7 linked regions of the Homo sapiens genome follow. The protein of the gene in region 1 purifies or fractionates together with the protein of each later gene. This does not show direct contact. Each region holds a gene or a part of one and is shown in the gene's direction. Other genes may lie near its edges.

Region 1 (4,141 bases):
ACAAGGGATGAATTATTCATGAGTTTTCCGGGAAAGGGGTAGGCAACTCCCTGGAACTAAGAATTCCTCCCCTTTTTAGACCATGTAGGGTAATTTCCTGATGTTGCCATGGTATTTGTAAACCGTGGTGATGCTGTCTGGAGTGTCTTTTAGCATGCTAATACATTATAATTAGCGTATAATGAGGACTGAGGACCTCCAGAGGTCAGTTTCATCGCCATCTTGGTTTCGGTAGGTTTTGGCTGGCTTCTTTACCGCATGCTGTTTTACCACCAGGGTCTTTGTGACCTGTATCTTGTGCCAACCTCCTATCTCATCCTGTGACTTAGAATGCCTAACCTCCTAGGAATACAGCCCAGGTCTCAACCTTATTTTACCCAGCCTCTATTCCAGATGGAGTCGTTCTGGTTTGAAGCCTCTGACAAGTTCACTGGTGGCCCGGGCAACATTTAGAAACAACAGAGACAACACTCCTAACAAGTTGGTTTAAGCATTTTACAAATACTGCTTTTAGTTCAGAGGGGGCTACTTACAAACACCCCCTCTAAATCCCCTAAGGGCACACGGTAGAAAACGCCTTCATAATTATCCTCGTAACACCGTAACTGCGAGGACCAACATCCTCCTTTCACAGATAAGCGAAGAGAGGTGAAAAGAGGGCAAATATACTCAAGGCAGCCGCCTCTAAACCGAAACTTGGGTTCTGAGGTCAGTTAAACTTGGGTTGCATTTGAACCTAAGCCTGCCTGCGTGAAAAGCCCGTTGCTTTCTTTGCACCTCAGCTGCCTCAGGTTCTTGAAGAGGCGATGGAGGATGTACTTCTAAGAGAACCTCAATATACCTACAATATAAGTGTTTAGGTGCTCCCTTAACTTGGAAAAAACCCACAACTGAGGAACCTCGGCCAATGCGGCGCCTGCATATTGAGTGCGCCCAAGAAAACGAATTTCCTCCCGTAGAGCGTCGGTTAGCGGCCACGTTAGGCAGCACAACCGTTCTGGAGACTGGGTGCTCGGCGGCCCAGCAGAGGGAGCGGGGCGGGGCGCGAGTTCCATACTCGTGGGTCCGTTTCTTCCCTCCTGGCCAGCCGCGCTCTGCTCCCATCTGCCTACGGGAAAGAGAGTCTCCGCGCACGCGAGCACGCGCACTCGCAGCCTCAACCCTCGGCTCCGCCACCGGGATGCAGTCTTCTGGGAACGGTTCTCCCCCAGCCCCCACCGGCTGACTTCCGGCCGGCAGCTCCTCAGCCCCTCCCCCTGAGGATTCACCAATCACGGTGCGCGTGTGGCTTGAGTAGGTGGGGCCTGAGAGATTCGAAAGGAGCCCCGCCCCCTCGGAGCTGATTCCCGGGACTAGGTTGCGGGAGAAAGCCTGTTGCGTGGAAGATAAGGCGGCGCGGGAAGTGGACACAGGGTGGGCTGGAGGTGTGCTTCGCGTGTGATGCCAGGGGAGTGGAAAGGTGGCTTGGGGAGTGCAGAACCCTGAGGATAGTGGCGGGGAGGAAGATGGGGCGTGCAGGCCGCCCCCAGTGAGGAGAGGCCAGGATGCAGGGCGGCTCCAGGGCAATCTGGGCAGTTGGGGGAGCCCTCCGTATCGTTCCCGGAGGTAGCAGGAGTAGCTGTGCGGGAGGTGCCACTCCTGGGCGCTTGCTTTGCCTCCAGCATGACCCCCGACCCTGGCTTGCACCCTGAATCTAGCTGCGAGCCTTGGGCAGAATGGATACCTGAGGAAAGGTATGGTTTCTCTCCAGCTCAGATCTAACTGGACTCTCGCTCCTGCTGGCTGGACATGGAGGATTTGGAGGAAGGTAAGGAAAGGAGGGAGGGAAGAATGAAAGGGAGGAGTGAGACCCAGCGATGGAGAGCTGCATCAGGGACCCATGACTGGCTTTCATTCTTCTTTCCCCTTCAGATGTAAGGTTTATTGTGGATGAGACCTTGGACTTTGGGGGGCTGTCACCATCTGACAGGTACCAGCCTCTTTATCCCACTTATTTTCCTCTAACAGTACCTCTTTGTCTCGAATCCCTTACTGCTGAATTATTGGCTTGGGTTGGTAACTTAGCAAGGTTTGGCGCACTTGGGGCTGCTGGGCGGCTGGCTGACTCGGGCCTCTATGACACTATTGGTAGCGGGGAGAGAAGGGAGAAGCTGGAGTTAGATTTCAGGGTGTTAAGAAGAAGGATAAGTGGATTTGCTGCATCTCCATCCTGGCATCATTTCTGATGTCCGTAAATGCTAAAGGCCTATTAGGCCCCATAGAACCAGGTATCTCATCGCCCAGAGGCCACATCTCACAGCCAGCATGGGCATCGGGGCCTAGGGTCATGTCCCTGGCTCTGTTGTGGGGCTTTTATGCAGTCTCCCTTGCATAATCTCCTGTTCCCTTTTGCATGGGCATGATGCCTGGTTTGTTTCCTGTCTCAGCCGTGAGGAGGAAGACATAACAGTGTTGGTGACTCCAGAGAAACCACTTCGACGGGGCCTCTCCCACCGAAGTGACCCAAATGCAGTGGCACCTGCCCCCCAGGGTGTGAGGCTCAGCCTAGGCCCCCTCAGTCCAGAGAAGCTGGAGGAGATCCTCGATGAGGCCAACCGGCTGGCCGCTCAGCTGGAGCAGTGTGCCCTGCAGGATCGGGAGAGCGCAGGCGAGGGCCTGGGGCCTCGCCGAGTGAAGCCCAGTCCTCGGCGGGAGACCTTTGTGCTGAAGGATAGTCCTGTCCGAGACCTGCTGCCCACTGTGAACTCTTTGACGCGGAGCACCCCCTCCCCAAGCAGCCTGACGCCTCGACTCCGGAGTAATGATAGGAAGGGGTCAGTCAGGGCTCTCCGGGCTACATCTGGAAAGAGGCCCTCCAACATGAAGAGGGTGAGTTGAGAGAGTTGAGTTGGAGGTGTGCCCCAGACATGGTGTGTGCCATGATGCAGGGAGTGGTTTCCTTATTGGTAAAACAGGGATAGCATTTCTACATCTAGAATTGTTGGAATTAAATGAGAACCATGAAAAAAGAGAACCAAAACTCTTACCACAGTGTCTGAGTATATGTCTATGATAAACTCAATAAATGGTATTGGCAATAGTGATGGTGATGGTGATGTGGTGATGTTAGCAGCTAACTTCTACCCTTCCTTACTGGGATGTAGACAACTCTCCACCTCTATTTCTTAATTCCTTAAGCCACAGAACAGATATTTTTTCCACTCTAGTCTTTTTTCTCTCTCTCTTTGTGTTTCAGGAGTCACCCACTTGCAATCTGTTCCCTGCATCCAAAAGCCCAGCATCTTCTCCTCTTACCCGATCGACTCCCCCAGTCCGGGGGAGAGCCGGGCCCAGTGGGAGAGCAGCAGCCAGTGAGGAGACCAGAGCAGCCAAGTTGCGGGTGAGTGGGAGTGGGGAGTTTGTGGGATTGACCCTGAAATTTCTCCACCCCTCTCCACCAGGCCCACCCACCCCCATCAGATCCGTCCTGGCCCCACAGCCTTCTACCAGCAACTCTCAACGCCTGCCCCGGCCGCAGGGAGCAGCTGCTAAATCTTCCAGTCAACTGCCCATTCCCTCGGCCATCCCCAGGCCTGCCAGCCGAATGCCACTCACCAGCCGGAGTGTGCCACCTGGCAGAGGTGCCCTACCTCCGGATTCTCTGTCAACTCGAAAAGGGCTTCCAAGACCAAGCACTGCAGGACACAGAGTGCGGGAAAGTGGACACAAGGGTAAGAGGTCAGGAGGAAGAATGCCCGCCCTTGCCCAGCGTGTCCTCACCCTCCCAGAGCTGTCAACAGTGACCACTTTTGCCATCCTTATTGCAATTCAATTGGAAGATGGGGAGACTGAGTTACAGAGAGGATATGGGGCTGGACAGAGTCTGAGTCTTAGTTTTCAAATACCTCATGGTCAGGGGGAGAGTACTAATCCCACACTCGCTCCCTTCATCCAGTATTTCTTTTCGAGGTCAGTTAAACTTGCTGCTAACTCATTTCTTTTGTTAACCCCCATGAAGTTCCTGTTTCCCAGCGACTAAATCTTCCTGTCATGGGTGCCACTCGCAGCAATCTGCAGCCCCCCAGGAAAGTGGCAGTCCCAGGACCTACCAGGTCAGTCTGGTCCTCCCTTGCCCATCCTGTCTCCCTACCCCGCCATCATC
Region 2 (3,500 bases), on another chromosome or scaffold:
CTCTCCATGTACCGGGTAGGAAGTGTGTGCATGAGAATTTGCTCACCCCACGCACATGTGTGTGCCTGGAGGGGAAAGCTACCAGCAGGTGTGTGCATGGGAGGACCCATCTTCGCATGTACGATGTGTTCCTCCAGCATGTGTGCACCTGCATGGGCACTACCTGCCGTAATGTGCTTGGTGCATCCAAGCAGATCCCCAGTTGCTTCGAGGTGCTCTAATCAACCCCCAGCCTGAAACCGGGGAGCCTTTGTATCCCCCTGAAAAGCAGTCTCCCATCCTCCCCACGCCTTCTTCCATAACCCCACATCTCTTCCTGCTCCCAACAGAATAACTTCCCAGCCAGCAGCCCGGAGAGACTCCAGGACCTCAAATCCACTGTGGACCTTCTCACCAGCATCACCTTCTTTCGGATGAAGGTAGGAAAGGATCCAGTTGCCTTTGCTCTCCAAGGAGGGTTCTCTAGGATCCCCAGCTCCCAGGACAAGTGACATTCCTCCTGGAGAGTGGCAGCCTTTCTCAGTAACCTTTTCCTTTCATACCACTTCATTTCCTTAAACCCAAAATGACTCGCAGTCACTTCCTGGGGACCTCCTGTCACAGCTGTGGCCGCCTATGCCTCTCTCCCTCCCTTCAGGTACAAGAACTCCAGAGCCCGCCCCGAGCCAGCCAGGTGGTAAAGGACTGTGTGAAAGCCTGCCTTAATTCTACCTACGAGTACATCTTCAATAACTGCCATGAACTGTACAGCCGGGAGTACCAGACAGACCCGGTGAGACTCCAGATGGGTCAGAAGGGAACAGTGATGCCAACTAGACACAGGCTTCAGTCCCAGCCCTGCCCCTTCCCGAGGGATTTAACTCTTCTGAACCTCAGTATCTTCTTCTATAAAATGGGGTCATTAACCCACATCTCAGGATTAGGGAGAAGAGTTCATGAGCTGTAAGTTTAGATAAAATATAGTCGGCACTCAGTACATTTGGTTGCGTAGTTGAGTTTGGCATAAAAAAAAATTTTTTTTTTTTGAGATAAAGTTTCACTCTTGCTTCCCAGGCTGGAGTGCAGTGGTGTGATCTCAGCTCACTGCAACCTCTGCCTCCCAGGTTTAAATGATTCTCCTGCCTCAGACTCCCGAGTAGCTGGGATTACAGGTGCCCACCACCACACCTAGTTAATTTTTTGTATTTTTAGTAAAAACGGGGTTTCACCATGTTGGCCAGGCTGGTCTCGAACTCCTTGACCTCAGGTGATCCACCTGCCTCGGCCTCCCAAAGTACTGAGATTATAGGCGTGAGCCACCACTCCCAGCCTGGCATAAAAATTTATGTCTGGCATACAGTCACTGTTCAGTAAATGTTGAGTTGAATTGAATTTATTTATTTATTTTGAGATGGGGTCTTGCTCTGTTGCCCAGGCTGGAGTGCAGTGATGCAATCATGGCTCACTGCAGCCTCGACCTCCCAGGCTCAAGTGATCCTCCCACCTCAGCCTCCCAAGTAGCTGGGACTATAGGCACGCACCACCATGACAGGCTAGTTTTTGTATTTTTGTGGAGATGGCATCTCACTATGTTGCCCAGGCTGATCTCCTGGGCTCAAGCGATCCTCCTGCCTCAGCCTCCCAAAGTGCTGGGATTACAGGCATGAGCCACCACCTGTAAGGAGCTTATAGCCTATTATGAGGGAAAGATGTACAAACTGGAAATTTACAAACAGGGATGGTTAGTATTGAGATAGTGGGATCTCAGGAGGCTGTGGGAGCTGGAGGCAGCCCCTACCCAGGTTCTGATAGGATATAACACATAAGCTGTGTTCAGTTCAATTTGATTTCATTCTGTTCCTTTACATTCAGTTGACTAGAGTTGGAATCAGTCTCACTCTCATTTGAATTGAGTTGAGGTGAACTGGATTAAATTAGGCTATAAGGAGCTTATAGCCTATTATGAGGGAAAGATGTACAAACTGGAAATTTACAAACAGGGATGGTTAGTATTGAGATAGTGGGATCTCAGGAGGCTGTGGGAGCTGGAGGCAGCCCCTACCCAGGTTCTGATAGGATATAACACATAAGCTGTGTTCAGTTCAATTTGATTTCATTCTGTTCCTTTACATTCAGTTGACTAGAGTTGGAATCAGTCTCACTCTCATTTGAATTGAGTTGAGGTGAACTGGATTAAATTAGATTGTTTAGTTCAACCATAATCAGTTTAGTTATATTTATTTCTATTTGGTTGACTTAAGTTAAAATTGTTCTTGACGGCCAGGCACAGTGGCTCACGCCTGTAATCCCAGCACTTTGAGAGGCCGAGGTGGGTGGATCATGAGGTCAGGAGATCGAGACCATCCTGGCTAACACAGTGAAACCCCGTCTCTACTAAAAATACAAAAAAATTAGCCGGGCGTGGTGGCGGGCACCTGTAGTCCCAGATACTTGGGAGGCTGAGGCAGGAGAATGGTGTGAACCTGGGAGGCAGAGCTTGCAGTGAGCTGAGATCGCATCACTGCACTCCGGCCTGGGTGACAGAGCGAGACTCCGTCTCAAAAAAAAAAAAAAAATTGTTCTTGACAAATTAGTGAGCCAGGCTGGGCTCAGTGGCTCACACCTGTAATGTCAGCACTTTAGGAGGCTGAGGCAGGAGGATCCCTTGAGGCCAGGAGCTCGAGACCAGTTTGGGCAACATAGCGAGACCCTATCTTTGCAAAATATACAAAAATTAGCCAGGTGTGGTGGCGCACCTGTAGTCCTGGCTACTTTGGAGGCTGAGGTGGAAGGATCACTTGAGCCCAGGAGTTCGAGTCTATGGTGAGCCATGATTGCACCACTGCGCTCCAGCCTGGGTGACAGAATGAGACTCTGTCTCTTGAAAGAAAAAAAAAAAAAATAGAGAGAAGAACAAGTTGGTTGATTGCATTGAGTTTTATTGAGTACAAATTCATTCATTTCCATTTAGTTCATTTACATTCAAGTCAAGTTGTTCTCAACTGGGTTAAATTGTCTTGAGTTAGGATGAACTGGGTTGTTGGATTAGATGCAATTGATTTCAGTTGAATTGGGTTGAATTGGGCTAATTTCAGCTGATTATATTCATTTCCATTGATTAACAAAGGTGGGTTGAATTGCCCTGCGTATGTTCAGTTGGGTTTAGATAGGTAGAATCGGATTGGGTTGACTTGGGTAGAGTTGAGTTCGAGTCGATTTATTTCCATTATTTTGATTTGGGTTGATGTTGATCTTGGACAAGTTGATTAGGTTCAATCCAACGGAATTCATTTGAGTTTAATTCAATCCAGTTAGGTTGAATTGCACTCCATTCAGTGTGATTGGCCCAAGTTCAGTTCCATTGATTTAACTCAGAGGAAGAACTTACTTCCGTTAAGCTAAGTGGGCTTAATTTGCATTCATTTCATTTCCATTTGGTTTAGTGGAGCTGGGTTTGTTCAACTAAATTTGGTTTCATTTATTTCCATTCACTTTTAGAGTGGAGTCTAAAAATCTTAAGC
Region 3 (3,500 bases), on another chromosome or scaffold:
CAAATGAATGAAAGAGTTCAATCATTAATGATAGGGCTCCTAAAATTTTCTTTCAAGACTATCCACTGTTAGGAGAATAAATGAGATTGGATTAGAAAGACTTTAATGTATTTTTTTCATCTTTTTTAAAGATTCCTCGGACAAGAAGGAAAAGAAATCTTTTAGCCTTGAGGAAAAGTCCAAAATCTCCAAAAACCGTGTTCACTATATGAAATTCACAAAAGGTAAGATTAAGCATTTCTTTACTTGTTATTGAAATCTACGTGTTTGTCCTGAGTTGCTTGAAGCATTTTAGCTCTGGGCCAATAGCGACTTCATGCTTTATGGACAGCTCCGACTGCATTGCTGTGAAACAGCGCTGGAGTCTTCGCATTGACTGTGGTGTGCCTGAGGATCTTGTTAGAATTCAGATCTAGGAGATCTGAGATGGGACCCAGATTAGGTTTTAGACTGTAAACAAGTCCTGTGGCTGAGCTAAAAAATGGAATCAGCTTATATTTAGAGGAAAACGGGACTTTATGTAGCTAGGTCAGAAAATAATTTTAATTTCTTGCCCAACATTTTTAGCTGCATGGTGTTTTTTCACAGCTGAAAGTTGGTGTTAAATAGCTTTTAATACGCCAGGTTAGAGAATTATGCTCTATATTGATACCTCCAGTGTGATAAAGCACACTCCCTGGTTGACCCTTTATTCCACGTAATTTCTCCATTTCACAGCGTAGGCATTCCATAGTCATTGCCAAGTCGGGTAAAAAGCCGTTTGAGACCTGGGTGAGAATTCCTATTCCTTCATCACCACCTCCCTAGCCCCTTCCCAGTATGTGAAATCATTTGTGCATGCGGTTGTTGTCTTCAGCCACTAGGTGGCGATCTTGCATTGGAAAGAAGCAATTTAACCTAATAGAACCAACTCCCCAGTTTGTCTGTAGAACAGTATCATGAATTAGAAACCTACTTATTACATAGTTTACATAAGAAGCGTGATGATGCTGCTGATGCTGTAATATCTAGTCTCTGTTGATGGTTCTTTCCTGGGAGGTTGGATGTGTTTCTACCTTGATATGCCAGGAACAGCACATCTCTGCTTTGGTCTTCTAGGAATGTCATGCGTATCAGGGCATTGCTGGGAAGCTCTTAACTTGTACAGCCAGCCTGGATAGCAGTGGGAGCTGGAATCCCCACTACTCTGAAGTATTGATGATGCTTTTCATTTAGGGCCAGGAGCCCAAAAGTGAGGGCTGGGTTTGGTTGAGGTGAGAGGCCGTGGCAGAGCTGAGTGGATTGGGGATTGTGTGCAGGGAGAGGCTGGGCCTCCCTTCCCTCTCCAGCAGCCGTGGCTCTTCCGCTTCCTCCGTTCTTTCTCTCACATGGAACTTTCTTGGCTGTCGCCCGTATCCCTTCTGACTGGGGTTCTTCTCCACCCCAGCGTGCTATGGAACAGAATACAGGCTTCCTTGGCCCTCAGTCCTTTTGAAGAGAGGGTACATGCTCACTTCATACCCAGTCCCTGAAATAGCATTTCTTCTTTCATTAGACTGTAGAGAAAAACTAGAGATCACAGAAGGTGCTGTTGCAGAGCAAATTAATAAAACTCAGTGACCTGTAACTTTCGGATGATGTGGCAGCCTTTTACGCTTTCACTTTTACAGGTAGAATCTTCTAATTTTCCTTTGATGCCAGACTGCATGCATGATTTCATCTGAAGCATTTGCTGAGGCTGGGATAAGCCTCTGTAATCTGCTTTAATCTAATGGATGCCGGGAGCATCTGCTTTCTATTTCTAGTTAAGCCACTCCTTTGCTGGGTGACCCTGTGAGACCGCTGAGTGCCTCGTGCCTTCGTTTTCTGTCTTCCAGCGAGGGTTCTGTATCTATTAGCCTTGCCTGGGGAGAAGAGGGAGTCAGTATGCAGAACAGAAGGATTCTCGGATCTATTGTCAGATTGCAGAGAAGAGCTGGAGTGGAGACGGGAAGGACATGCAGACTGGGCCTACGTAGGAAAGGGAGAAGGAAGCAAAAGTCCAGGGAGTGAGGAAAAGAATGGTTTATCAGCTAGCTTTCCAATCACGGTGCACACTTATTTTAAAGTTTCCTCTAGGGTGGACTATCTTAGATCACAGAAAATCTCACTCTGGCCATTACTCGCTCAGACAAGTCACCTACCCATTTCCCTTCAGACTCAGTTTCCTCTTTTGTAAAATGTGGATACATTTGTAAGTGACTATTAAGTTCTAAGGTAGGTTCTGTTTTATGATTTATTAGAAATGACCCATTTCATGGAACTTTTGCTTTTTCAGCATTGTAGATAATAAAGATTTTCGCCAGTGGGTATGCTGATAACGACTGTAACTCATTCACTTAGTTGATGAGGATGATTCATATTGCAACTCATGTATCGTCCAGGAAATCAAACAGGAAGATGCAATTGTACATAGCTTGGGAAGAGTGAAGATTAAAATTTTACTCTACTAAGATTACAGTAGCAAATAGTGTTGTAAAATTTGCTACTGCCTAAATATCAGCTGTATCATTATTTTTATTTTTATTTTGAGACAGGATCTCACTCTGTTGCCCAGGCTGGAGCACAGAGGAACAGTCTCAGCTCACTGCAGACTTGACCTTCTGGGCTCAAGTGATCGTCCTGCCTTAGCCTCCCAGCGTGCTGGGACTACAGGTGTGAGCCACTGCACCTGGTTGGTTATATCGTTTTAGTTCTGATATATAATTATTCCTTTCCCTGGTCCTGAGTTTATAATTCTAACTTGAGCTAATTTATTGTATAATTTTAAATGTCAGTTTTATCATACTTATTTAAAGGCTCAACTCCAGCTTGGTTTGTAGTTTTTTGTATTTTTTTTTAATGCAAAAGGTCTCTGCAGATAGAGGCTATATCTGCAGAGGGGAAAATGTCAATCGATACAAAGCCATTTCTGAGGTTTTCTGACTGGATGGTGAGACGTTGGCAGGAGAGCAGGAGAGCAGTGCTTCCTCCCCTCAGTTATGCAGTTGTTGGATGAAAGTTGCATAAACTGTAATTGTGCAGCTTTATCCTGGGAATCTTGCAGACTTCTTAATCCTTTTGAGAGTTTGGGCTATTTTATATGCTACTGAAACAAGGAAACTACATGCCTAACGCATGTGCAGGTGCTCGGCTTCCTGGTCGGGAAATACAGAATTGGTATTCACAGCGCAGTCAGCCCCGCCCCTCAGTTGCACACTGGTAGTGAGGAGCATTCAATCTCCTCTTCTGATTCTTTTGACATTTAAATAAATATCAGGTAGCACCTGGTAGGTCTGACCTGTGTCACTCACACTGACTCTTTCCACTTTCCTGGTTTATGGTGTCTTTTAGTGGAGTTACCCTTATCTTCTGCCCTCGGTTGACTGCCAGTTCTGTGTGTTTGCCATTTAAAAAGATAAAAATAAAAGTATGTCATTTTATTTGTCCTTCTTGATTGAATAATGCAAATGAATTTTCTAAACTATTGAAGCTACCTACAT
Region 4 (3,500 bases), on another chromosome or scaffold:
GAGCCCAGGGCCTAGGGCAACACATCTCTACCCATTTTTGTGGGGGCAGTTTTGTTTTTATTTCCATTTGGGAAATTGTCAAGTAAATCATGAGGTTGAATAGGCAGAACCACGCTGCCAGGCGGCTCTAAAAGTTTCTCAGTGCCTACACTCAACATATGCTCTCCTCCAGCCATGAGCCGACTTTGCAGACTGTGTGGAGCACTTTATTCCTCTCCTCAGAGGTGGTTCTCGCAGCCACCCCTGCCAGGGGCCCACAAGGCACTTCTCCCAGGGGGGTGGGTGGATGTGGTGGCTTCGAGTCACCCTCCGTAGTGGCATTGCAGGCCTGACCATTTGTCTTAGGTCTGACCAGGGGTAGGAGCGGGGCTGCCTCCTCACAGAATGATGGTGATGTGTGTGTTGCAAAAAACCGCTTCTTTGTGTTGATTTTCCAGGAGAAGAGCTTGAAGTTGTTCAGAAGGAAGTGGCAGAGATGCTGAAGGGCAGAATTCTAGTGGGGCACGCTCTGCATAATGACCTAAAGGTACTGGGCTCTCTCCTGGGGACTCAGCCTGCCCCTGCTCCGTGGGTGTTACACTCACGCCCTTGCTGTGTTGGGGAGTTTTAACAATGTGTGGGTTTGTGCTCTATGTTGGGAATACTTTGGTAATAATATCAGATACCGCGTGCTGAGTTCTTACTGTGTTTTAGGAGCCATGCCAGGCTCTTGTTTTGAGAGCCCCCAGCGAAACTGGGGTACCCATACCAGAGCAGCTGGCAACCCCGCCCTAATGAGAAATGAAGGTGCTGATACCCCTTTTACCTGGAGGAAGGCCTAATGTCCAGTTGTCCCATCCGTGACCAGGGTCCCTCCACAGGAAACAAGTTTATCCTGGCAGATGCCCTGTGGCCCATGTTCAGGTTACGCTTGCCTAACCATCACCCTGGCCCTGGGAGCTTGCCTTTGCCTTCTTTCTGGCGTCCCGAGGAAAATCCCGCCTGGGGCAGCCCCTGGTTCTTCAGATGGAAAGTGCAAATTCAGACACCACCACCGTGGGAAACAAGTTCAAAGACATATACAGACCCTGGGCAGGGAAGGCGTCATGGGTGGGGAGGGCAGCCTGCCATCTCCTGGTCACCCGAGGCAGGAATGAAGAGTCAGGCAGAGCGAGTACGTGTGTATTTACAGGAGAACAGGGTGGGGGTCACTTTGAGTTTATGGGCAAATGCCTGGATGTTGGTTTAAAGGACACAGTGGGAACAGCGGGGAGGCCAGTCTGCTAGATGGGAGAGACACTTAAGTTGTCACCTCTGCCCACCGGCTTGAAGCACTTGGGTGTGGTGAGGAACTTGAAGCCGTTCAGAAGGAAGTGACAGAGATGCTAATGTTCAGGCAGCAGCCTTTGCTATGGTGCTCCCGTGACGGCACTGTAGAGATCCCTTGAATCCATTGAAGATGCTGGAGGTGTTCATGCTTGTTTACAGAGGGTGAAACTGAGGTGAGAACCCCCCGGGCAGTGTCCTCACAGAAAGGTCTTCTGTGTGCTCCTGCTGTACCCCCTCAGAGACTGCTGCCGTGGGGACTCGTCCTTCCCTCCTGACTCTGACTCCATCCCTGGCACCTTGCGCAGCACATGTTCAAGTCTTTCTTGAAGATGATGCTAAGGACCAGACACAGTGGCTTATGCCTGTAATCGCAGCTTTTTGGGAGGCTGAGGCTGGAGGATTGCTTGAGGCCGGGAGTTAGAGACCAGCCTGAGTAACATAGGGGAGACCCCATCTCTATAAAAAATTTTAAAATTAGCCAGGTGTGGTGGCGTGTGCCTGTTGTCCCAGCTACTCAGGAGACTGGGGTAGGAGGATCAGTTGAGCCCAGGAGGTTAAGGCTGCAGTGAGCCATGATTACCCTATAGCACTGCAGCCCAGGTGACAGAGTGAGATCCTATCAAAAAACAAAACAAAACAAAAAATTGCATGCTAAGATTGCAAGATGAGCTGTTAAAATGTGTTATTTGCAACTTCCTGATGTGTAGAACCAACTCAAAATACAAGTATAATATAGGAATAAGTTGGTTGCTGGTTAACTGTTGACTGTTTTTCTCCTACTTCCTTGATTTCAAGATTTTGTTTTTATTGTCTCTGACTGTTGGGCATCAGCTTAAGTCAGTGCAATAAATTTCCTTCTGGAGTTGAAATTCATATCAGTGCCTTGTTTCCATGTGTGTGTGACACACTTGGATTCCCTACAAGATGTTACTTGCAGGGCAGCCGCGTTGGCTCACACCTGTAATCCCAGCACTTTGGGAGGCCGAGGCGGGTGGATCACCTGAGGTCAGGAGTTCGAGACCAGCCTGGCCAACATGGCAAAACCCTGTCTCTACTAAAAAATACAAAAATTAGCCAGGCATGGTGGCGGGCACTTGTAATCCCAGCTACTCGGGAGGCTGAGGCAGGAGAATCACTTGAAACCTGGGGTCGGAGGTTGCAGTCAGCAAAGATTGAGCCACTGCATTCCAGCCTGGGTGACAGAGCAAGACTCCGTCACACACACACACACACACACACACACACACACACACACACACACACACACAAAGATGTTACTTGCAAAAGGTGGCGGGGGGAGGGGGTTCTGCTACTACAAACCAAAAATGAAAATGATTATCATTATATTTTATTTTTCTAGGTACTATTTCTTGATCATCCAAAAAAGAAGATTCGGGACACACAGAAATATAAACCTTTCAAGAGTCAAGTAAAGGTACTTAGAATGAGTGTGACTCAAGATACTGTATTTCTGTTTTGCTGGTCACTTCATTGTTTCTGGTCACTGGTGGCTGACTTGTTGGTTAAAGGGTTTTTGTTTTTTCTTTTAACCTTTAAAACTAGAAGGAATGTTTAAAAATAGAGTTCTGCTAATTGCTGACCTTAAAAATGATTGCAACGGAGGGCAAGTTATTTCCACTCTAACCTCTGAAACAGGGTCACTGACTAAGGGCCTGGTACCACTGTCGTATCTGCTCTAGAGGGTGCCAAGGGCAGAGCCGTTCTTCATCCTTTTTTTTTTTTTTAGACAGGGTCTTGCTCTGTCACCCAGGCTGGAGTGCAATGGCATAATCTTGGCTCACTGTAACTGCCACCTCCCAGGCTCAGGCAATCCTTCCACCTTAGCCTCTGAAGTAGCTGGGACTGCAGGCATATGCCACCACCCCTGGCTAATTTTTTTATTTTTATTTTTTTAGAGATAGGGTCTTGCTGTGTTGCCCTGGCTATTCTCAAACTCCTGGGTTCAAGTGATCTGCCCTCGTTGGCCTCCTAAGTGCTGAGATTACAGGTGTGAACCACCATGCCTGGCCAGAGCTGTCCCTCTTGAAATAAGCAGGGAGGCCTCAAGATGGGAGATGGGGATGCTGACTCCTCCCCTGGCCCTCTCCTTTTATTGGCTGATAGGGGTGTATCACCAGCCCATCATGCTATAAATGGCAGCTGGTGGCTACCACCCTAAGTGCCATGAGCAC
Region 5 (3,500 bases), about 72 Mb from region 1:
CAGTATATTTGAAACAGTTCTGTAATTCAAGCTCTGATTCTTCCACATAATGTAAATAAATGTACTGCAGTTTACCAAAATGTTTTCATCTCTCCTTCTAGAAACGGTGGGTTGCTGTCCTCTCCCAGGATTATCCAACACTTGCTTTCCATGCAAGCCTTACTAACCCGTTTGGCAAGGGAGCATTCATTCAGCTTCTGCGGCAGTTTGGAAAGGTATTGAGCCCTGATCTGTTTCTCCTGGAGTTGTGTAGCTGTGAGTTGGTATAAGAATCTGTCTTGCCATGGCATAGCAGAAAGTTGCCAACTTCTTAGCCGGACGTGGTTGCGCAGGTCTGTAGTCCTAGCTACTCAGGACGCTGAGGCAGGAGGATTGCTGGAGCCCAGGAGATCAAGGCTACAGTGAGCTATGATGGCACCACTGCACTCCAGCCTGGGTAACAGAGCAAAACCCTGCCTCTAAAAAAAAAAGATGTGGCCGGGCGCGGTGGCTCACACCTGTAATCCCAGCACTTTGGGAGGCCGAGGCAGGCAGATCACAAGGTCAGGAGTTTGAGACCAGCCTGGCCAATATGGTGAAACCCCGTCTCTACTAAAAATACAAAAATTGGCCAGGCATGGTGGCACACGCCTGTAGTCCCAGCTACTGGGGAGACTGAGGCAGGAGAATCGCTTGAACCTGGGAGGCGGAGTTTGCCGTGAGCCGAGATTGCGCCACTGCACCCCAGCCTGGGCGACAGAGCGAGACTTCTCAAAAAAAGAAGAAGAAGATGTAAAAACTTCCAGAGATGTAAAAACTCACAGAGCATCAGGATTATAAGAGATTCTGAAGTGTTTTCTTGCTCAGCCTTTGCCCCCATCCGTGACCAGTGTTGCTTCCATTTCTGCCACAGCCCTGGCACCTGACGTTCCACGCTCTGCTGGGCTTTCCAGGCCTGCTGTGCATCCTCTGCCCATGGAGCCCATGCAGCTTCTATGTCCTCTGGTTGGAGAGGGCCCTGCCAAAATTCAAGCTTCAGATCCCTGGTCAGACGTCAGCTCCTGAGGGAAGCCGTGGAACCAGACTACCCTATCAAATTCTTAAAGCTTCATGTTCTGTACCTGTCATTTTGAATTTGTCTATTTAGTTAATTCTACCTGGCTTCTAACAAAAGACACATGTCTGCTGTCCCACCCTTCCCCACTTTACAGAAGCAAATGCTTCCAATAGCCATTAGTTCTGTTATTTTCCTCCATATTTTTAGTACATGCTTATGATTTTCTTGATCTGTGCCCACCCCTCACCCCCAGTTTAAGATGCTTATTAATTTCTTACTATGGAAAATGAGGATTTGCTATCTTATAGCCATCCTCTCTCTGTATGTACTTCCCCCTGTATTGTTAGATGCCAATGTTGGGTTACAGTATTATTCATTCAGTGTTGGTTGGTTGTTGTTGTTGTTTTAACTTGGAAAGGAGAGCTTTATTTCTCATAAAGGGTTGCAGCCTGCAGGGTGGCCACTCTAACAGGCTGGGAAGAGTAGTCTTGGCCATTCAGTCTTTACATTGTCATGACTGTAAAATATTAGTCACAGCTGATCCACATGGTGTGCTATGAGTATAATTCCTTTCTGATCGAAGCTTTTATTTTCGCTAGTGTTACTTTGCTGTGTTCTATTTGTATCTGTCACTATCATACTACCAAATTCTCTGATACAGTGGGAACTGTCAGAGCTTCCAGGCAGCACAGGTAGTTCCCTTCGGTGGCCAGCACTCCGTCCTCCGCAGGGCTGGCCGCTCTCCAGGCTGCTGCAGCGTCGTCTTTCTGGGATTTCCTTTCACTGTCATCCAGAGAATTCCCATGGCTGTTTTCCTGTATGGGACCTCTTATTTATAGGACCTCTTTTCTTCTTTTCTGGTTTACTCCTTTCTTTCCATGGGACATATTTTCCAAAAGTTTCCTGAGAAGGAATACTTGGAAAGAACATTTTTTTGAGATACGCCTTGCGTTCTGAAAATATCTTTATTAAGATCTTTATTCTACCCTTTATGCTGTTTTTCCTCAGAATACTGAGGTTACCACTGCACTGTCTTCTGAATTCTGAGGAATCTGAGGCCATTCTGACCCCTCATACTTTGTGTGGCTGTGATTTCTTGTTTTGAGACAGGGTCTTGCTTTGTCACCCAGGCTGGAGTGTGGTGGCACAACCACAGCTCACTGTAACCTCAAACTCCTAGGCCCAAGCGATCCTCCTGCCTCGTTTTGGCCTCCTGAAGTGCTGGGATTACAGGTGTGTGCCACCACGCCCAGCCAATCTTTTCTTATTCTAAAATTTAAAATTTCTCTTGTTCTAAAATTTCACAGTGGTGTGTCTTGAAGTGGGCCTTTTATTGCTCAGTGAGCTTGGCGTTTGATGAGACTTTAGTCTGATATTGTCTTACATTATTTCTTTGAAATTTTCTTTCCTCCCTCAGTTGTCTGTATTCTTGTTCAGAAATTTGCTTTTACCTCCTGGTTTAATTCTTGATTTATATTTGCTTTCTTTTTTTTTTTTTTTTTTTTTGAGGCAGAGTCTCACTCTTGTCACCAGGCTGGAGTGCAGTGGTGTGATCTCGGCTCACTGCAGCCTCCGCCTCCCGGGTTTAAGCGATTCTCCTGCCTCAGCCTCCCGAGTAGCTGGGACTGCAGGCACACGCCACAACGCGCAGCTAATTTTTGTATTTTTAGTAGAGACGGGTTTTCACCATGTTAGCCAGGATGGTCTTGATCTCTTGACCTCGTGATCCGCCCGCCTCAGCCTCCCAAAGTGTTGGGATTACAGGCATGAGCCACTGCACCTGGCCTATATATTTTTTCTTTTGGTACATATATGACATTTTCCTCTATTTTCTGGGTACTTTTTTTTTTTTGTGAGACAGAGTTTTGCTCTTGTTGCCCAGGCTAGAGTGCAATGGCGCGATCTCGGCTCACTGCAACCTCCTCCTCCCAGGTTCAAGCAATTCTCCTGCCTCAGCCTCCCGAGTAGCTGGGATTACAGGCATGTGCCACCACACTTGGCTAATTTTGTATCTTTAGTAGAGACGGGGCTTCTCCGTGTTGGTCAGGCTGGTCTCAAACTTCCGACCTCAGGTGATCCGCCCCCCTCGGCCTCCCAGAGTGCTGGGATTACAGACGTGAGCCACTGCTCCCGGCCACTTTCCTTGTTTTGATCATCCAGCTGCCCAGTCACAAAATTTATTTTGCCAATTGCTTTTAATTTTTAATTTCTGAGAGCTCTTGTTGAATTCTGATTTGCTCTGCCTCCTTTTACATCTTATTTCACAGTCACAGTATCATTAATGACGTTTTGAAATTTTCCTGTCTGCATTGATTCTGTTACCTCCAAATTTTTGTGGGTTTTTTTGTGTTTTCTGCTACAGTCACGCTTAAAAATTTTTTCTTTTACTTTAAAAATTTTTTTGAGACAGGGTCTTGTTCTGTCTTAACCCAGGCTGAAGTGCAGTGGTGCGATCATGGCTCAC
Region 6 (3,500 bases), on another chromosome or scaffold:
GGCAGAATAAGTCAAAGAGCATTAAAATTTTTTTGTTTTTCCAGAAGCAGCAAAGTTCTGAAGGAGACGCAAGTAAAGATACCACAGGTGTCCTAGATTGTCAACAGACCATTTAATCATTTTTGTTAACAAAGCAGGTGACAATTGAGCCCTAATTTGCGTTATCATTAGTTGTTACAGGATCTTGCTTGTTCTCCTGAGGCCACGCCACGATTTCCGAGAAGCAGGTTGCACACTCAGCAGTCTCCCACTAGCCAGTGGCACTGCAGGTGCAGGGGCTGCCTCCTGGACCTTTCAGGACGCTTTGCAAGGTCACTGAGGATCTCCATTGCACATTTGGTAGAATTAAAAGACTGCCAGACTCAGTCTTACTGTTGTTAGTGTATTCGTGCTGTCAATATGTGATGAGGACATATTATATTCCGTTATTCTCTTTAGCTCAAGGAAGAATAAAGAATTTGGACCAAAATTACAACCACATTATGACGAATTTTCTAAGCAAAAGAAACAAAGTAACTGCTGAGGTTAACAAAGATGTAATAATTCTCTTCACACAGCCTTGTACTGTTTTATTGACTGTATTATCACAAATCCTGAGCTTAACGAAAGTCTTTATAAGTCAGCTCATGAAAACAGGCACGTGGCCAGTAAGAATTTAATTTCATACCAATAACACTTCAGACTTCGGATGTATTTAAGGCTGTTTGCACATATTTATAGAATGTGTGGTGTAGATGATGGGACAGCTCCCCCTCAGCAAGACTCTGGCCTAAATGTATTTGCTTTATTTACACAACAAGAGGATAAGCGTAAACACGGGCACTTTCAGTTTGTGGCACTGAAGGACGATCTACACAGGGCACCCTGCAGAGGCCACAACCAAGGCCGCCTGGCTTCCCAGTGGGACAGGCCTAAGGGAGGACTTCTGGCCCCTTTGCTTGATGTTCATGTTTTATGCCTTGATATTTCTTTTTGGTTGCATTCCCTGGAGCTCATGTAGATCATTTTACTTTTCAGAGGTGCTAGTTCTGGTGCCCACACGCACACACACAAAACCATCAACTCTTCTGGATTCCTTGGTTTTAAAGCTTGCCTCATACAAAGTACAGAGACATCTTTTTCAGGAAACATTGCCACCACATGCTTGAAGGACCGCTTATGGCTACACTTAGACATCTCCAACCAAGGTCTCTTCACCTCCTTCTACAACAATGCACTTTGTCTGCACTGGGACAAAAAATGACAGCCTTTTTTCTTTTCTTGTTTTTTTTTTTTTTTGGCGTGGAGCATTTCCGAACTTTCACGTCATAAAAAATGCAGCATAGTTAATCAGCAGCTTGCACTTCTGAGGGCACATTCACCTCGGGGGAGGAGGAAGGAGGAGGAGCTGGTGGGTGCTGAGACTGCAGTGTCCTCCTTCCCAGCAGCTGGACCCAGAGACCAGGCACCAAATTTTTTTGATGAAATTATCCTAAGGAAATAATCAAATTTGTACAGAAATTTATGTTAAAAAATGTTCATGGCAGCACCGTTTAAAATGGGGAGAAAATTGGAAACAACAGAATTGTAGCAATACATATGATCATTAAAAATTATGTTTTAGAAAGATTTTTAACAGTCTTTGGAAAAAGTTGGTGACATGTTGCTAGTTTTTAAAAAAAGTACAGAGTATGTACAGTATGATTCCAATTTTGTGTTTAAAAATTAGACATAGTGGTAACCTAGCTTCAGTTCCAGATAAGATGGAGAAGGCATACTCCTTTCATGTCTCCCACTGAATGCAGCTATAAATCCTGGAGAGTAGACAGGGAGAAACTATTTGAGGACTCTGGAACAAAGACATAGTAGCAATCGACTGGTGAAGAAGACAAGAATTTGAAGTACGGTCAAGTATCTGTGGGCTCCACATCTGTAGATACAACCTACATGTATTGAAAATATCAGAAAATAAAAATAACAATACAACAATAAACATCAATACAAATAACACACCAATACAGTATAGCAGCTACTTACATAACACTGACATTGTATTAGGTAGAAGTAATCTAGAGATGATTTAAAGTCTGTCGGAGGATGTGTGTAGCCTGTATGTAAAAACCACGTTATTTTATATGGGGGACTTTAGCATCCAAGGATTTGAATATCCACGGGGGTCCTGGAACAAGTTCCCCATAGACACCAAGAAACAACTGTATTCCTGAAACAGTCTTGAGTTATCATTTTCTTTCTTCTCCCTCTATGTATGTACATAGAGTGTACATACATAGAGTGAGAAGCAAAGAAGGTCCATGAAATGGACCAATTCTTTTGAAAACTGCAAATTACCACAGTTCATCTAACATGAAATAGATAACCTGAATGGTCCAATAACTAGTAAAGATATTGAATTAATAGTTTAAAAACCTTCTGAAAGGTAAATCTCTACCCTAAATGATTTCACTGGTGAATTCTATCAACACATTTAATGAAGAAAAAACTCCAGTTCTAAACAACTTTCAGAAAAGAAGAGGGAACACTTCCTCACTCATTATATGAGGTAAGCATTGCCCTAATACCAAAACCAATGTTAACACAAAATATGAAACCTACAGACCAATAACCCTCATGAACATAAATGTAAAAATCCTCAAGAAAACATTAGCAAATTTAAACCAGCAGGATATAAAAGGAATAATAATACACCATAACAAAAAAAGAAACTATCCTTGGAATGCAAGGCTGGTTCAATATTTGAAAATCAATCAGTGTAATCTACCATATTAACAGTCTGAAGAAGAAAAATCATGATTATATCAATACAGAAAAAAATTGACAAAATTCAACATCAGTTCATGATAAAATTCTCAGCAAACTAGAAAGGGAAGGAAATTTAACATGACATAGGACATCTACAAAAAAACCTACAGAAAATCCTAAGGAGTCTATGAGAAAATTTCCTAAAACTAGTAAGTGAGTTTAACAAGATCACAGAGTGCAAGGTCATCATACAGAAGTCATTTTTATATCTTAGCAATGTACAATTAGAAATTAAAGAATATCACAGTAGCTTCAAAAATATGAAAGGCTTAGAAATCTAACAAAATGTGATCTGGATGCTGAAAATGATGAGATGATAATGAAAGAAACCCCAGAAAACCTAAATAAATGGAGAGATAAGAAGGCTCAACCTAGTAAAGACGTATGTTCTTTTTAAATTGATCTGTAGACTTAATAAAATTCCAATTAGAATCCAAGCAGGATTTGTTCTTATAGATAAGCTCATTATGAAATGTATATGGAATGTAAAGGAACTAGTGCTATGGTTTGTCCCCACCAAATCTCATGTTGAAATTTGATCCTCAGTGTGGTGGTGTTGGGAGGTGGGGCCTAGTGGGAGGTGTTTGGGTCATGGGTGTGGATCCCTCATGAATAGATGAATGCCCTTCCTCGTGGGTAGATAAGTGAGTTCTAGCTCTTTCAGGTCCCAACAAGAGCTGGTTGTGAAAAAGAGCCTGGCA
Region 7 (3,500 bases), on another chromosome or scaffold:
TCCAGCTTCATCGATGTCCCCGCAAAGGACATGAACTTACTCTTTTTTTATGGCTGCACAATAAACATAATTTTATTTTTACTTCAGTTTTTCCTGGAGAATCAAAGAGAGGGACACCTCCTGTTTTTTATGAAACTAGTATAACTTCGCTACCTAACTCAGATAAAGAAGATATTAGAAATGAAAATTATGGGTTTATCTTACTTATGATCATAGATGTAATATGCTAAATAAAATAAAAAATTAGGTCACATTTAAACTGGGTTTTCCCAAGAATAAAGGATTATTGAAAATAAAAGAATCTCTTTTTTTTTTTTTTCTTTAAATGAGAAGGAGTCAGCATTCTCATATTTGGATGAGGGCCTTTGGTTTGGTGCTGATTCATCTCTGGCCTGGTATTTACCACAAGGGAAAGGATAGACCTTGACCTGAAAGTGGATGACTCCCATGGCCTTAGTGCACTTTTTGTTCACAGAAGTGAGCAACAAGGACCAATGGTTCTTTCTTATACATTAAATGCAGCAGGATGTATGACAGAGCATGCCTCCATTTGTGTACTAGTGTGGATATAGTTTATTTTTCAACTTTTGAGTTCAGAGGTACATGTGCAGGTTTGTTACATAGGTAAGCATGAGTCAAGGGGGTTTGTTGTACAGATTATTTCATCACCCAGGATTAATCCTAGTACCCATTATTTTTCTTAATCCTCTCCCTCCTCCCATCCTTTACCCTCTGATAGACCCCAGTGCCTGTTGTTCACCTCTATGTGTCCATGTGTTTTCATCATTTAGCTCCTACTTACAAATGTGAGCATGCAGTATTTGGATTTCTGTTCTTGGGTTAGTTTGCTAAGGATAATGGCCTTCAGCTCCATCTGTGTTCCTGCAAAGGACATGGTCTCATTCTTTTGTATGGCTGCATAGTATTCCATGGTGTATATGTAGTACCACATTTTATTTATCCAGTCTACCATGGATCATAACAAGTTTTATAAGGCAGAGTCTATTTTAACACCTGGCACCTATATAACAGATGAGGCAATTAAAGCCTAGAGATGTTAAGTAATTTTCCTGAGATCACACAGCTAGCAAGTGGCAGAGCCAGGATTTGAACACAGTTAATACTTAACTAATTATTTTTTGATGTTCACATCAAGTTCATAGCAGTGTAGTAGGTGCTCTGAGGAGTTAGAACAGAAATATTGGATAGATCTCATCTTCAATTTAGCTTATAGTTCATTAAGACCAGAAAAATAGGCTGGGCGCAGTGGCTCATGCTGGTAATCCCAGCACTTTGGGAGGCCGAGGTGGGTGGATCACCTGAGGTCAGGAGTTCCAGACCAGCCTGACTAATATGGTGAAACCCCATCTCTCCTAAAAATACAAAAATTAGCCATGCATGGTGGCGGGCGGCTGTAGTCCCAGCTACTGGGGAGACTGAGACAGGAGAACTGCTTGAACCCAGGAGGCGGAGGTTGCAGTGAGCCGAGATCGTGCCACTGCACTCCAGCCTGGGTAGCAAAGCAAGACTCTGTCTCAAAAAAAAAAAAAGAAAAAAAACCCAGAAAAATAAATTTACTGTAGGCATAGTGACCATGCCTTGAAAGCAAAAAGCAAGACTCTGTCTCAAAAAAAAAAAAAAAAAGAAAAACCCAGAAAAATAAATTTACTATAGGCATAGTGACCATACCTTGAAAGCAGCTGTGCTCAGTTTGGCGACAACATGAAGTGAACTGGTTGGTTTATTAGTTTTTAGGTAATCATAAAAAAGTACAAATTAGTATGATGCAAACTTTACTACATTTCCAATTCTGTATTACAGTATTGGGGAGAAAGTGGTTTGGAGCTAGATCTTTGCATCTGTCTGCCTAATGGAAATATAAATTAAGGGAATATAAAATTAAGTACTTATTAGGCATCAAATGAATGCCTGTTTTTTTTGTTTTTTGTTTTTTTTTTTTTTGGTGGTGGTTGTTGTTTGTTTTTAAGAGACTCCTGGTGTCTGTGAGCTTTTTAAGCAGTCATTTGAGATTTGGGCTCTTCAGCTGATCTTTTAAACTGTTCTTAGATTTACAAGTAGGGAATATTGAAGCATATGTTTGTATTTGATTTAAATGTTTAGTAACATCCTTTTAAATTAGTAAATTGATTAATGTTAACATTGTGTCAAATTTGATTACTTATAGCATCATTTTTCTTTCAAAGGAAGAAGCCATTGAAATGCCAAAATGCATCGGTTACTTTTATTTTTCGAAAGTTAGGTGTTATGATGCTCTCAACTGTAATTTTATTACATTTACTTTTATATTTCAAAATTGCATATGGGGTTTACCTTTTATTTAAAAAACTCTTGTGAATTTCACTTAGCTAGCATCTTTTCCACATGTGCAGCTAGTTTTTAGTTAATTTTGCTTTGTATAAAAGATTCCTGTGTTTATCATCAAACCATAGTTTCGGTTATCTTGGAATGAAAGCATAATAAGGAGTTCTCAATTTGTTAGTTTACGTAGTATGACAAATTTCTACTGTATTTAATGTTTCCATCCTCACAACAATGAGGTGAATATTTTACCAAAAATTTCATTAATCCTTTTATGATATATCAGTGTCACTGTGGTGCTGACTGTGGTAGGAATAATCAGTAAAAGCACAAGTAGACTCCTTTACTAAAACATAAAAATGATCAAGTTGATATTATCTTTCCATTCTACCATATGTGCTCAAACTGAATTCAGTAAATTTTAAATGGTAATGGCTAAGTAGTCCCACCTGCTTATTATGAGGTTTTTTTTAATACCTAAATGCTATATTAGGTAACCTATGTTAGGAAGGTTTCAATCTAACTTATTATTTCAGTTGTGAGCTTGTTGAGAAAGGGTATATTTTACTCCATTTTGTATTCCTGGCTTCTACCACAGTGCCTGGCATAAAGTCAGTGTTTAGTTAATAGATGATAAATGATTGAGTGAATGAATAAAATACAATTAAAGGTGAAATATAGCAAAACCTTTCTGAGATGATTTTTAAGAAAATTAAAGCATCTTTGAGTTCTTAAAAATATGAAGTTTTTAAAATTAACAATTGTACAGTGTCAGAGAAGTAAAATGATTTGCCGTTGATCATGTAACTGCTTGAAAGTTTATTACTAGCTGAATACTAGCCTCCTACCATTTGCTCTGGTGCTCAGTTCAGCTCACTTCCTGCCTTTTGTAGTTAAAATTTTATGAAATGAACATCACAGAAGGGGAATGAATTATTGAGTCTATAATGACTGTCCTTTAGTTTCAGAAAGGTCCGTGGGAAAAGAACCTATTATAGAGAACATTTATGGAATTCAATAATTTGAATTTATCATGGAAATAAGTAAAACTTCTAGATCAGGTTAAATTTTATTTCATCTTTATAGCATCATTTTAAGTACCACCAAGTACTTTTTAAGGAGTAAATAACAACCTAGAAAGCTTAAAATTCATTGAAATATTCAATAAGGAGTTTCCAGAA

What was found.
Region 2: the proteins of PSRC1 (region 1) and UNC13A fractionate together in Homo sapiens (co-fractionation; one large-scale study listed by BioGRID). This does not show direct contact.
Region 3: the proteins of PSRC1 (region 1) and PINX1 purify together in Homo sapiens (co-immunoprecipitation; one large-scale study listed by IntAct). This does not show direct contact.
Region 4: the proteins of PSRC1 (region 1) and REXO4 purify together in Homo sapiens (co-immunoprecipitation; one large-scale study listed by IntAct). This does not show direct contact.
Region 5: the proteins of PSRC1 (region 1) and GNL2 purify together in Homo sapiens (co-immunoprecipitation; one large-scale study listed by IntAct). This does not show direct contact.
Region 6: the proteins of PSRC1 (region 1) and PRMT2 purify together in Homo sapiens (affinity purification with mass spectrometry; 3 studies listed by BioGRID and IntAct, with this or other methods). This does not show direct contact.
Region 7: the proteins of PSRC1 (region 1) and YTHDC2 purify together in Homo sapiens (co-immunoprecipitation; one large-scale study listed by IntAct). This does not show direct contact.

The regions. Positions count from the first base shown.
Region 1 is NC_000001.11:109,280,346-109,284,486, reverse strand, and holds the start of PSRC1 (proline/serine-rich coiled-coil protein 1), read left to right. Parts: upstream 1-1,341; 5' UTR 1,342-1,424; exon of another isoform or gene 1,425-1,750; 5' UTR 1,751-1,788; coding exon 1,789-1,807; intron 1,808-1,911; coding exon 1,912-1,969; intron 1,970-2,426; coding exon 2,427-2,868; intron 2,869-3,235; coding exon 3,236-3,350; coding exon of another isoform or gene 3,351-3,440; coding exon 3,441-3,710; intron 3,711-3,997; coding exon 3,998-4,091; intron 4,092-4,141. UniProt on the Homo sapiens protein: Required for normal progression through mitosis. Required for normal congress of chromosomes at the metaphase plate, and for normal rate of chromosomal segregation during anaphase. Plays a role in the regulation of mitotic spindle dynamics.
Region 2 is NC_000019.10:17,636,355-17,639,854, reverse strand, and holds part of UNC13A (protein unc-13 homolog A), read left to right. Parts: coding exon 1-15; intron 16-329; coding exon 330-419; intron 420-637; coding exon 638-772; intron 773-3,500. UniProt on the Homo sapiens protein: Plays a role in vesicle maturation during exocytosis as a target of the diacylglycerol second messenger pathway.
Region 3 is NC_000008.11:10,822,876-10,826,375, reverse strand, and holds part of PINX1 (PIN2/TERF1-interacting telomerase inhibitor 1), read left to right. Parts: intron 1-131; coding exon 132-224; intron 225-932; exon of another isoform or gene 933-1,003; intron 1,004-3,500. UniProt on the Homo sapiens protein: Microtubule-binding protein essential for faithful chromosome segregation. Mediates TRF1 and TERT accumulation in nucleolus and enhances TRF1 binding to telomeres. Inhibits telomerase activity. May inhibit cell proliferation and act as tumor suppressor.
Region 4 is NC_000009.12:133,408,011-133,411,510, reverse strand, and holds part of REXO4 (RNA exonuclease 4), read left to right. Parts: intron 1-437; coding exon 438-526; intron 527-2,668; coding exon 2,669-2,743; intron 2,744-3,500.
Region 5 is NC_000001.11:37,578,938-37,582,437, reverse strand, and holds part of GNL2 (nucleolar GTP-binding protein 2), read left to right. Parts: intron 1-101; coding exon 102-215; intron 216-892; coding exon of another isoform or gene 893-1,096; intron 1,097-3,500. UniProt on the Homo sapiens protein: GTPase that associates with pre-60S ribosomal subunits in the nucleolus and is required for their nuclear export and maturation.
Region 6 is NC_000021.9:46,652,674-46,656,173, forward strand, and holds part of PRMT2 (protein arginine N-methyltransferase 2), read left to right. Parts: exon of another isoform or gene 1-171; coding exon of another isoform or gene 172-381; exon of another isoform or gene 382-2,424; intron 2,425-3,500. UniProt on the Homo sapiens protein: Arginine methyltransferase that methylates the guanidino nitrogens of arginyl residues in proteins such as STAT3, FBL, histone H4. Acts as a coactivator (with NCOA2) of the androgen receptor (AR)-mediated transactivation.
Region 7 is NC_000005.10:113,520,194-113,523,693, forward strand, and holds part of YTHDC2 (3'-5' RNA helicase YTHDC2), read left to right. Parts: intron 1-3,500. UniProt on the Homo sapiens protein: 3'-5' RNA helicase that plays a key role in the male and female germline by promoting transition from mitotic to meiotic divisions in stem cells.